2 linked regions of the Homo sapiens genome follow. The protein of the gene in region 1 interacts with the protein of each later gene in a pairwise test. Each region holds a gene or a part of one and is shown in the gene's direction. Other genes may lie near its edges.

Evidence for each region. Proteins that work in one complex are often made in the same cells at the same time.
Region 2: the proteins of VPS54 (region 1) and HIP1 interact in binary tests that used the Homo sapiens proteins (3 or more experiments, as listed by UniProt).

Annotation. Positions count from the first base shown.
Region 1 is NC_000002.12:63,910,569-63,915,753, reverse strand, and holds part of VPS54 (vacuolar protein sorting-associated protein 54), read left to right. Parts: intron 1-1,466; coding exon 1,467-1,572; intron 1,573-1,828; exon of another isoform or gene 1,829-1,929; intron 1,930-2,443; coding exon 2,444-2,531; intron 2,532-3,092; coding exon 3,093-3,214; intron 3,215-3,328; coding exon 3,329-3,409; intron 3,410-5,185. UniProt on the Homo sapiens protein: Acts as a component of the GARP complex that is involved in retrograde transport from early and late endosomes to the trans-Golgi network (TGN).
Region 2 is NC_000007.14:75,731,543-75,736,727, reverse strand, and holds part of HIP1 (huntingtin-interacting protein 1), read left to right. Parts: intron 1-5,185. UniProt on the Homo sapiens protein: Plays a role in clathrin-mediated endocytosis and trafficking. Involved in regulating AMPA receptor trafficking in the central nervous system in an NMDA-dependent manner. Regulates presynaptic nerve terminal activity.

The DNA of each region.
Region 1 (5,185 bases):
TCTTTTCTCTTCTGAAGTCCTTCCCTGTTTCTGGTAGGGAAAGCTTTCTTCAGTCTTCCTGTAATCCCATCCCTTCAATATAATTATGATTTCCCTCCTTAACTACTGGTTATCTGGTCACTCTTCACTTGCTTGATGGATATGGTCCCCTCTGGCCATCTTGCTTTTGGCTCTTTAGGCAGAGAGTCTGTTGCCAAAAAACTAAATTCCCTGGCTAAAGGGGAACTATTACAACTTCTGAGAGACAATTACAAAAGATAAGCAATGGACTCATGCTCATTTAGGCAGACTCTAGGAGAAATAAGCATAGAGACCAGTATGCATATATGGTCTGACAAGGTGTTATAAAGGCTAGACACCATCTTTCTTGAATCATTAGTTCCTGATATCTTTCAGGCTCTTATAAATCCTTATTTTACGTAGATCTTATTTCTGAGCATGTCATTGAACTTAGATATCCTATGATGAATGGCTTTCTCCTTAATTTCAATCTTCTTTAACTTCCCAGTAGTGTGTCTTTTTAACGTGTGATTTGTCCTTCTATGGAGGTGATAACTTTATCATCTTCGGAAAACTTTTTTTTTTTTTTTTTTTTTTTTTTTGAGACGGAGCTTTGCTCTTGTTGCCCAGGCTGGAGTGCCATGGCATGATCTCAGCTCACCACAACCTCCGGCTCCCAGGTTCAAACGATTCTCCTGCCTCAGCCTCCCCAGTAGCTGGGATTACAGATGTGCAGCACCACGCCCAGCTAATTTTGAATTTTTAATAGAGACAGGGTTTCTCCACTGTCAGGCTGGTCTTCTCCATTGTCAGGCTGGTCTCGAACTCCCGACCTCCAGTGATCTGCCTGCCTTGACCTCCCAAAGTGCTGGGATTACAGGTGTGAGCCACCGCGCCCAGCCAGAGAACCTTTTGTGACCTACCAATAAAATTCTTAGGAGACATGTTTTCCTTAGAAGCCATTATAGATTTTTTTTTTTTCCATCTCACTAAGAAAATCTGGACTAGGTTTTCTTCATCAATTCATTAGTTATGATGGAGGACCTACTATGTTGGTAATCAGAAACACTGGATAGGCTTTTTGTCAGTGTTTCTGAATTGGCTAATGAATGCAATACCTGTCTTACTGAAGCGACTCCCTTACTTAATAAGAATGCCATACAGAGAGTATTATGCCTGTTGTACAGAATTTAAGGAGCCACTCATTCTCAGTGTTGTGCAAGCTGATCCTGCAATTGCACAGAGTAAGAGCCTCTTTAAATTTTGCATTCTAGACACCTCTCTTGTCTTGTGTTAGTCAAGAACCTGCTGTACTAGTAGGTAAAATGCATACTTTAACATAGTTACCAAGGTCATTATATTCTCAGAGATCCTTTGTGCCATTAAGTAATTTGATTTTTATATGCCAAATCCTTTTGATTTTTCTTGTTTTGATTTCCTATTGGGCCATTTTTCTTTTCTTGTAGAACCGTATTGCTGTTAATAAGAATTATCCTTGAATATTGCCAGTGTGTGGATAACATCCCATCTGTTACTACTGACATGCTTACTCGTCTGTCAGATTTATTGAAGGTATGTATGACTTCACTCCATTATGGAAAAATTTTTCGAGGAATTAATACATTAGGGTGTGACTAATCTTAACTCAAAGACATTTCAAGGTCAAATTAACTTTAAGACATTAGTTTTATAACATTTGATTGTGGTTGAATCACAACATGTTATTGGAAACAGGCTGCCTGCTTCCTTCTTACTCCACAGTTAGTGATCCTCATTCACCCATAGAGTTGTTAATGACATTGGAGACAGGAGATGATTTGTTCGTTAGGTGCTGAACATGACTGAGGCCACTTAGGTCAAAAAACCTGGACTGGCTTCAAATGTGCATGGAAGGAATTCACTGAACTTTACAAAATTCATCTCACTAAGGTTAGAGATTTTTCTTGCATCATTCTTTCAGAACCATTGATATAAAATGAAAATGTGATGATTTTATTCAGCCATTTCATATTGAGATATTTTAAACTACCAGTACGGAGGAAATGCTTTATTATTTTTTTCAAACCTCTAATCTGTTAATTATGTTCTGACTTGAGTTGTCATGTTTTAGCCAAGACAGATTTTTATAACTTTTGAAAATAGGACTTCCCAACAAGAATGACTGAAACCGAATTTGTTTTGTACATGCAAATTAAAGATTAATTTCTGCGAACTGATTTTTAGAATTTTTCAACTTTTTTCTTATCAGTAAATATTATCATTTAGAATCTCCCCTTCTCATTTCTTTTTCATTAAATAAATAGATACTAATTGCTTCTACTAGATAATTCATTTGGCCATTGAATGAGAGGAAAGGGGAATGTATTTTTATAATAGCACATTGCCAGGATATAAAGAACAGTTTTTAGTAAATTTTGGGGTTTTTTTCTCCTTCTTTTGTTAGTACTTCAATTCAAGAAGTTGCCAGTTAGTTCTTGGAGCTGGTGCACTGCAAGTTGTTGGACTAAAAACGATAACTACAAAAAATTTGGGTATGGATTCTTGCGTTTAATTCACTTGCTGAAGTGTTAACAGTGATGTCACTGTTCTCATCATGTTTTTTTATACCTCATGTTTTCATGGCTCTAACCAAAGTGGCATTACTCTAAAAATAAATGCTACTTACTCTTTTATGTATACTCATCACTGAAAAAAACTAACCATGGGGAAAAGGTTACGATGCATTTCCCCTCCAAGTATAAGTTACTTGGAAGTTACACCACTCTAGAAAATATTAAGATATAATGTGTATAAAGTATTTGGGGGTGAAAGCTATCTGAATGTCATAAGAGAATCAGTTGTCTTGTTATTGTGATACTGATAATACTCACAACTTGAGTCCTTTGTGAAAGCAGCATGTTCATTACATTATTCAGTATCAAATTATTAGACAAAATGAAATATGTTGCCTTCTGCCATAGGGCTCTTCGTTTATGAAATAAACTGGTTCTTTATAAGTGATGTTTTTTATTTGATTTGATTTGTAATTAAAATCAACTAATACCTTTTTTTTTTTTATTTCTCCATTATATATCTACTCCCTGGATCTTCAGCTCTTTCTTCACGATGTTTGCAGTTAATTGTGCACTACATTCCTGTGATCCGGGCTCATTTTGAAGCTCGACTACCACCTAAGCAATATAGCATGCTTAGGCATTTTGATCATATCACTAAGGTACTTTTTCATATATTTTCTATTGGCGTTTCATAAGTTTAGATCCTTAATTGTTAAGTATTTTAAAAATGTGTCCCAGGGACTTAAAAATACAATTATCATTTCTCATTGCAGGACTACCATGATCACATAGCTGAAATATCAGCTAAGCTTGTAGCGATAATGGATAGCTTATTTGACAAGCTGTTATCTAAGGTAATGATTTATAGAAATTATTAGACTTTGTTCAAAGACATTATGATTTTCTATTTTATAAGGAGTACTTTATAAATTAAGATGTGAAAAGATAATCTAAACTTTCATAGGATATTTACCAATTAGTAGAATTTTAAATTTTTTTTCAGGAAAATGTGACCATGTGCTGTGACCAAGACCCCCCATAGTGGTCTAACCTGCAGTTATCTAACAAATTATTCAGGGTTTAGAAAACAACTCAACAAAATTTTCGGATTTCCAAAACAGTTGATATTCTAAGGGGCTGGCAGGAGTAGGAGAGATGATTCTAAGGATGGTAGAAATCCTATGCAGAAGTATTTTTATGTTAATTCATTTCAACATTCATTTCTTGTTTGTTTTTCATTCCCAATATGTCATTAAATGAAGCAGTGTTCCCCAAAGAATTCGCAGTTATACTGGGAGAGTATCTTCAGAAAAATATCATTTAGTCAGCCCCAATCACGCTTGATCTATCTTTCACTGTTTACTTTCCCTAAGTTTTTCAATTCACGTCTTAGTGGGAAAGCCAAAATTTCGTAACTTGAAAGTCTGAAAGTTTACTCAGTGTATACTGTCTGTCCAAGATCATATTTGGAATAACCTTAATAGCAAAGAACTTTGATTTGCTTTTTATCCTACTTGCATCCTTCAGATTCCGAAATGGCAGGAACAGCAGGTACATAAGAATCAAAAGGGCAAGATAAAGTGGTGTCCATTCACTCACACACAAGACTACCCAAACACATATTCTATTAGCCTTCAGAATAATGATATCACAAGTCATCTAAAAATCCCCACTGTTCAATCATGAGAGAATGAGAGTAAAATAGATAAATAGCATCTTATTAATAATATTATTATGAAAGCGGCTTTTACTTCCCAGATTCCTGGAAAGGGTCTCTGACTTCTGGGAATCCCCAGACTACACTACACCTCTGGTGTAGTTGGTAATACAGGTGTTTTATGCTTCACTTTTAAGAAGCTTAAGGAATTTGTATTTATGTACAAACATACCTATACTATGTTATGCCTATTTAAATTAGTTTCTAGTTGTGAAGGGAGAAAAATTACTGTTTAGAGATGCTTTATTTTCTTCACTGGTGCCAAGTACAAGCTACATTCAAAAGCAATTCTATTCTACCAGTTTCCTTTTTGATATACAGCATTCTTCTGTGTACCAAAAGTCGGTAACATATTGTGTCTGCTCTCAAGAAGCTTACCATCTAACAAGGTTAGAAGACTGTAAACAGCTAACAGTGGAGAATAGAATATATGTTAAATAGTGGAACTAGGCTGGGAATAGTGGAACTATGCTTGAGTCCAGGAGTTCCAGCCTGCAGTGAGCTGTGATCACCCCACTGCACTCCAGTCTAGGTGACAGAGCAAGACCCGGTCTCTAAAACAAACAAACAAAAATAGTGGAACAATTAATAGGCTGTGGAATACAATGAAGAAAAACCAAAGATGTGCTAGTACTCTTAAAACTCTGACTTTAGTCTGTCACTTTGGTCATCCACAGAGTTTTTGAATAAGAATTGTCACAGTGACTAGACTTTTTCCTATGACAACTTACTTTTTTTTTCTGTAAAGAAAAAAGAGAATTGTTTAATTAACTTCCCATGTATGCATGACCTATATTCGTTATTAACAATTTGCCTTTTTTGCTAAAATATTTTATAATAAATTTGAGGCATTATGGTATTTTATCCCTAAATACCTAAGTATGCATTTTTAAAAACTAAGAACATTTTTACA
Region 2 (5,185 bases), on another chromosome or scaffold:
TCCCAGGATCCAGCTAGGTTTGAGGCTTGTTCTCTGGTTTCATGGACCCGACCCCTGAAAAGAAGGAAGTTTTCCATTGGTCTTGGATGTTAGTGCCTCTGCTAGCTGCCTAGTTACATGAGGCTTCTTGCTCCATGAAACAGTGTGTATATTCCTTTTATTTTTATATTTTCATAGAGATGGGGGTCTCACTGTGTTGCCCGGACTGGTCTCAAACTCCTGGCGTCAAGTGATTCTTCTGCTTCTGCCTCCCAAAGTGCTGGGACTACAGGCATGAGCCATGGCACCCAGCCCTATTTTTTTTTTTAATAAATGAAATAAGAAAATAAATAGATATTATTTTTTAACAACCCGTTCCTTCTAGAGTCTCAAATAAGTAAAAACTAGAGCAATAGAGAAATATGCGTAAGACTTTGACCCATAATAGTGATAGAAATTAGGTTTGTGAAAGTTTCCACCCGTGAGTGGTATGTTTCCCTGCTATCCAGGGACGGCCCAACAGGAGAGTCTAGGTCAGTGTTTTCTGGTGTTTTACATTCTGTGGGACATTTGTGATTGGCCAGATTTGACCTGGGTGGGGTGGGTGGGGGTGAAGTAGAGTGGAGCAGAAAAAGAGAATTTTTCTGATGTTGAAACTCTTATTTTTAACTTTTTTTTTTTTTAAGACGGAGGTCTCACTGTGTTTTCCCAGGCTGGTCTTGAACTAGCCTCAAGCGATCTTCCCACCTCAGCCTCCCAAAGTGCTGGGATTTCAGGTGTGAGCCACTGCACCCAGCCTCTGGTGTTGAAACTCTTTAGGGGTGTAGGAGAGTAAAGAAAAAGAACCAGCCTGGACAACATAGTAAGACCCCATCTCTACAAAAAATAAAATTAGCTGGTTGTGGTATCACGTGCCTGTTGTCCCAGTAACTTTGGAGGTTGAGGTGGGAGGATTGCTTGAGCCCGGGAGGCAGAGGTTGCAGTGAGCAAAGATTGTGCCACTGCATTCCGGCCTGGGCAACAGAGTGAGACCCCATCTCAAATAAAAAAAAAAGAAAAAGAAAAAGAAAAGAAAAGAAAAGAGAACAGCCCTAAACCCAACGTTAGTCAATCTGCAAAAAAATTATTTTGTTTAATGACTACCTATCAAATGTATTATGAGGTTGCAGAGCTTGGTAAGCAAAGGGAAAAAAGGGGAAGAATGTATTATGAGATATAAAAAATGAATTAGAAAAAATTTAATGAGTTAGGAGACCATGAGAATCAGCCAAGGTATAATAATAACTAACTAATTATTGTGTTTGGCAGTATTCTAAGGACATCATTGTATTACCTTTTTAAATCTTGACAAGAACGGATGAGGTGGGTATCAGCCACATTTTACTCTCAGGACGATTGAGGCACAGAGAGGTTAAGTAACTCACCAGAAGTCACACAGCTGGAAACGGTCTCAACCTTTACCCACTGCCTCAGGCAGCCTCTGAGTACTGAGCAGATGCTGGCATTGGAGTTAGAAGGCATTTGAGGCTTACAGCTGGGCATGTACATGGGCCTTGTGGTCTCTGGGAAGTTGTCTAACCTTTCTAAGCCTCGGTTTCCTTATTGTCAAATAAACATAATACTTACCTGGCTGATTTATTGTGGGGATTCAATTAAGCCCAATATGCCTGAAGGCATTTTGTAAACTGTGGAGCACTAGTTCAGTGATTATTGTTATAATCTGACTGGGGAGACGAACCCGAGACAGCAGAAGTGTGAGCAATCAAGCAGGCTGTGATTAACTCTTCCTTAGAGGGATAGATGTGGTACTAGGTAATGGGATAATTACCAAGAGCACGTGGATAAAGCACAGGCTTTGGGGTTGGGAGCCCTCCCCGAGGACTGAAGCACATCTTGTAGCATGAGTTAGTGCTTGCTGGGTGGAGGAGGGGATGGGGCATTCCAGTGACAGAAGAACATAAATAAAGAGACATCTAGACTAGGCAGATAAACTTCCCAGCGGGTGCAGTGGAGACTCATTGGCTGGGGTAGACAGAGAGGCAAAATTGGCCACTCCCTCCTCTGAACTATAGCAGGGCTGGTGACCTCTCCTAGTTCCTGTGACCTTGTGCTGGCATCATTTCTCTCTGTGGCCCCCATTGAACACTGAGCTTATTGAGGGCAGGTCTGTGTCTTGCTCTTGCCTGCATCCTGAAGCTCATGGTTAGTGGTGAATGGGGTCAGCAAGGGAACCCTGGGCCTAGGTGGGTAGTTCAGCCCTGGGCCACAGGATATATTAATAATTACTTTATTTATTTTTATGTAAGAGATGGTCTCGCTCTATTGTCCAGTCTGGAGTGCAGTGGCACCATCATAGCTCAGTTTTGCCTGGGACTCCTGGGCTCAAGTGATCCTCCTGCCTTAGCCTCCTGAGTGCTGGGACTACAGGAGCATGCCACCATGCTTAGCTGATCTTTAAAATTTATTTATTTATTTATTTATTTATTTATTTATTTATTTATTTGAGACAGAGTCTCACTCTGTTGCTCAGGCTGGAGTGCAGTGGCGCCATCTCGGTTCACTACAACCTTCGCCTCCTGGGTTCAAGTGATTCTCCTGCCTCGGCCTCTCGAGTAGCTGGGATTACAGGCGAGCGCCACCACGCCCGGCTAATTTTTTGTATTTTTAGTAGAGACAGGGTCTCACTTGTTGACCAGGCTGGCCTCGAACTCCTGACCTCAGGTGAGCCGCCTGCCTCAGCCTCCCAAAGTGCTGGGATTACAGGTATAAGCCATCGTTCCTGGCCTAGAATTTTTTTTGTAGAGATGGGGTCTTGCTGTGTTGCCCAGGCTGGTCTTGAACTCCTGGGCTCAAGCAGTCCTCCCGCCTTGGCTTCCCAAAGTGTTGGGATTACAGGTGTGAGCCGCCGTGCCCGGCCTATAATTACTTGTTTTCTTATAATGCTCCAGGGTCGCTGTTGGTCTAGCCTTGCCTCCCGCATACCCAGTCTAGAGCCTGGCCACATGCCCATCAAAAGACTCTCACTGCTCTGCCTGCCTTCTTCTGTCCTGGCGTCTATACCCTCAGACCAGCCTTGCATACCTACTCCTGCCAGCCTCCTCCAGGAAGCCTTGCCTCCTCAACTCTCCTGCACCATCCTCACATTTCACCTGGCCACTGTCACTGCCAGAGGAGGCACCACTGACCTGCCTCATGGCCCAGCCACTGCACCCATCTCCAACCAGACCCTTGGTGTGTTCCCCACCCAATCCATCACAAGCCACTTTCAAGCTTTAGGGAAGTGAAAAGTACTGCCTGCCCTCAAAAAAAAAAAAAAAAGAAAAAGAAAAGAAAGGAAAAGAAAAGAAAACCCAGCCGTAATAAGGAGACCTTATCAGGAGTACTTTACAGTTTATAAAGCATGTTTCTAGCCATCATTGGGACCACACGGTGGTCAGTCATTATCATTTTCATTTTATGGATGAGGACATCGTGACTCAAAGAGCTTGGTAACGTGCCCAGGGTCATCCCACGGGTGAGTGGAAGGGCCAGGATTCAAAACCAGGACTCCAGGTTCCAAGTGTCAGGCCCGTTCGACCACACTGTCCTCCCACCAGCCAAGAGGGCAATTCTGGAATCAGCCAGGAGGGCTGTCAATCACAGGACAAATAAAATAGTCTGTTTTTACTTAGCTGGAAAATGGTTTTCTCCATGGTTTGTTTATTTCTTCAACATCCGTTTAGTGAGCACATACCGTGGAGGAGACACAGAGATGAGTAAGATAAAGAGACCGGCTCTGGGGGGCTCGTGAGTCAGCAGGGAGGCAGACTGGCCACTGCGGGGCTCCTGGACAAGCCTTGGGGCTCTGATGTGGTCAGGCCCCGAAACACCAGCATCACCAGGGCCATTAGGATGTTGGGCACCACCCAGAACTACTGAATCAGGACTTGTCGTGTTCACCACAGCCCTGGGTACTCTGTGTACGCTGATGTTTGAGCAACAGTGCTCTGTAGTAGGTGAGTTCTGGGATTAGAGGAAAAGACACAGAGTGGGGAACAAACCTTTAGAGAGTCAAAATCTCTTTGGGTGAGCCGGGCGCAGTGGCTCATGTTTATCATCCCAGCATTTTGGGAGGCTGAGGCGGGAGGATGGCTTGAGCCCAGGAGTTCGAGACCAGCCTGGGCAACATAGCGAGACCCTGTCTCTACAAAAAAATCAAATCAAATCAAATAATTAGCTGGGCATGGTGGTGCTGCCTGTAGTCCCAGCTACTCGGCAGGCAGAGACAGGACGATTGTTTAAGCCCAGGAAGTTGAGGCGGCAGTGAGCCGTGATCACACCACTGCACTCCAGACTGGGTGACAGAGCCAGACCCTGTAAAAGGAAAAACAACACAAAAAAAGCCAGAAACAAACAAAAAAAGTCGGTGGATAGCGCATACGTCAGAGCAAAGGATCTTAATGCATCCTGCGTTGAGAAGAGCCTTAGATCCTAGAGAGAAAGAGATAGAAACAAATATTTATTGAGGGCCTGCTGGGTACCAGGAACATGCTGGGTGATTTATATCTATGATTTCATTTTAATAGCTCAGGCTCAGAGAGGCTAAGTGACTTGTCCAAGGTCACACAGCGAGTGAACCGAGAAGCCAGGACTTCACAACCAAATGGCAAAGTCCTTTTTTTCATGTTTACGTTGCGGGTACTTCTGCCCTCTTGCTCATGATCTTAAGCAGATGCTCAGCCTTAGTTCAGCAGCTAAAAAATTTTAGGGCTGGGCTAGAAGGATCTGCGGTTCTCAACCCTGGCTGGAGAGCTCTTTGAAAAAATAAAATACTGTTTCTCTGGGCCCCCTGCATAAGGATTCTGTCTCATTGGTATGGGGTGATCATTGACATTTTGTAAAGTCCCAGGTGGTTCTCATGTGCAATCAAGATGGTGACCGTGGGTCCTGATGGGTTCCCACACCCCTGGCACCCCACGGACTTTGGGTGGCTCAGTTGGTTCTGGTTATACTCAGAAAACCAAGATGGCCCTAAGCCTGCTTCCTGCAGGTAAGAAGCATCTGTGTCAGGTTTGTTCTTTAGGAATGCAAATGCTCAGAGCCAGGCTGTGTAGCACCCTGAGCCTTGAACCTGGCGCCCCACCCCTTCTGCTTCTGGAGCAGGTGCACAAAGAAGTCACCCCTTGCCTGAAGTCTGAGCAGGTGCCTTCTTGCAAGGAGAGCTGCT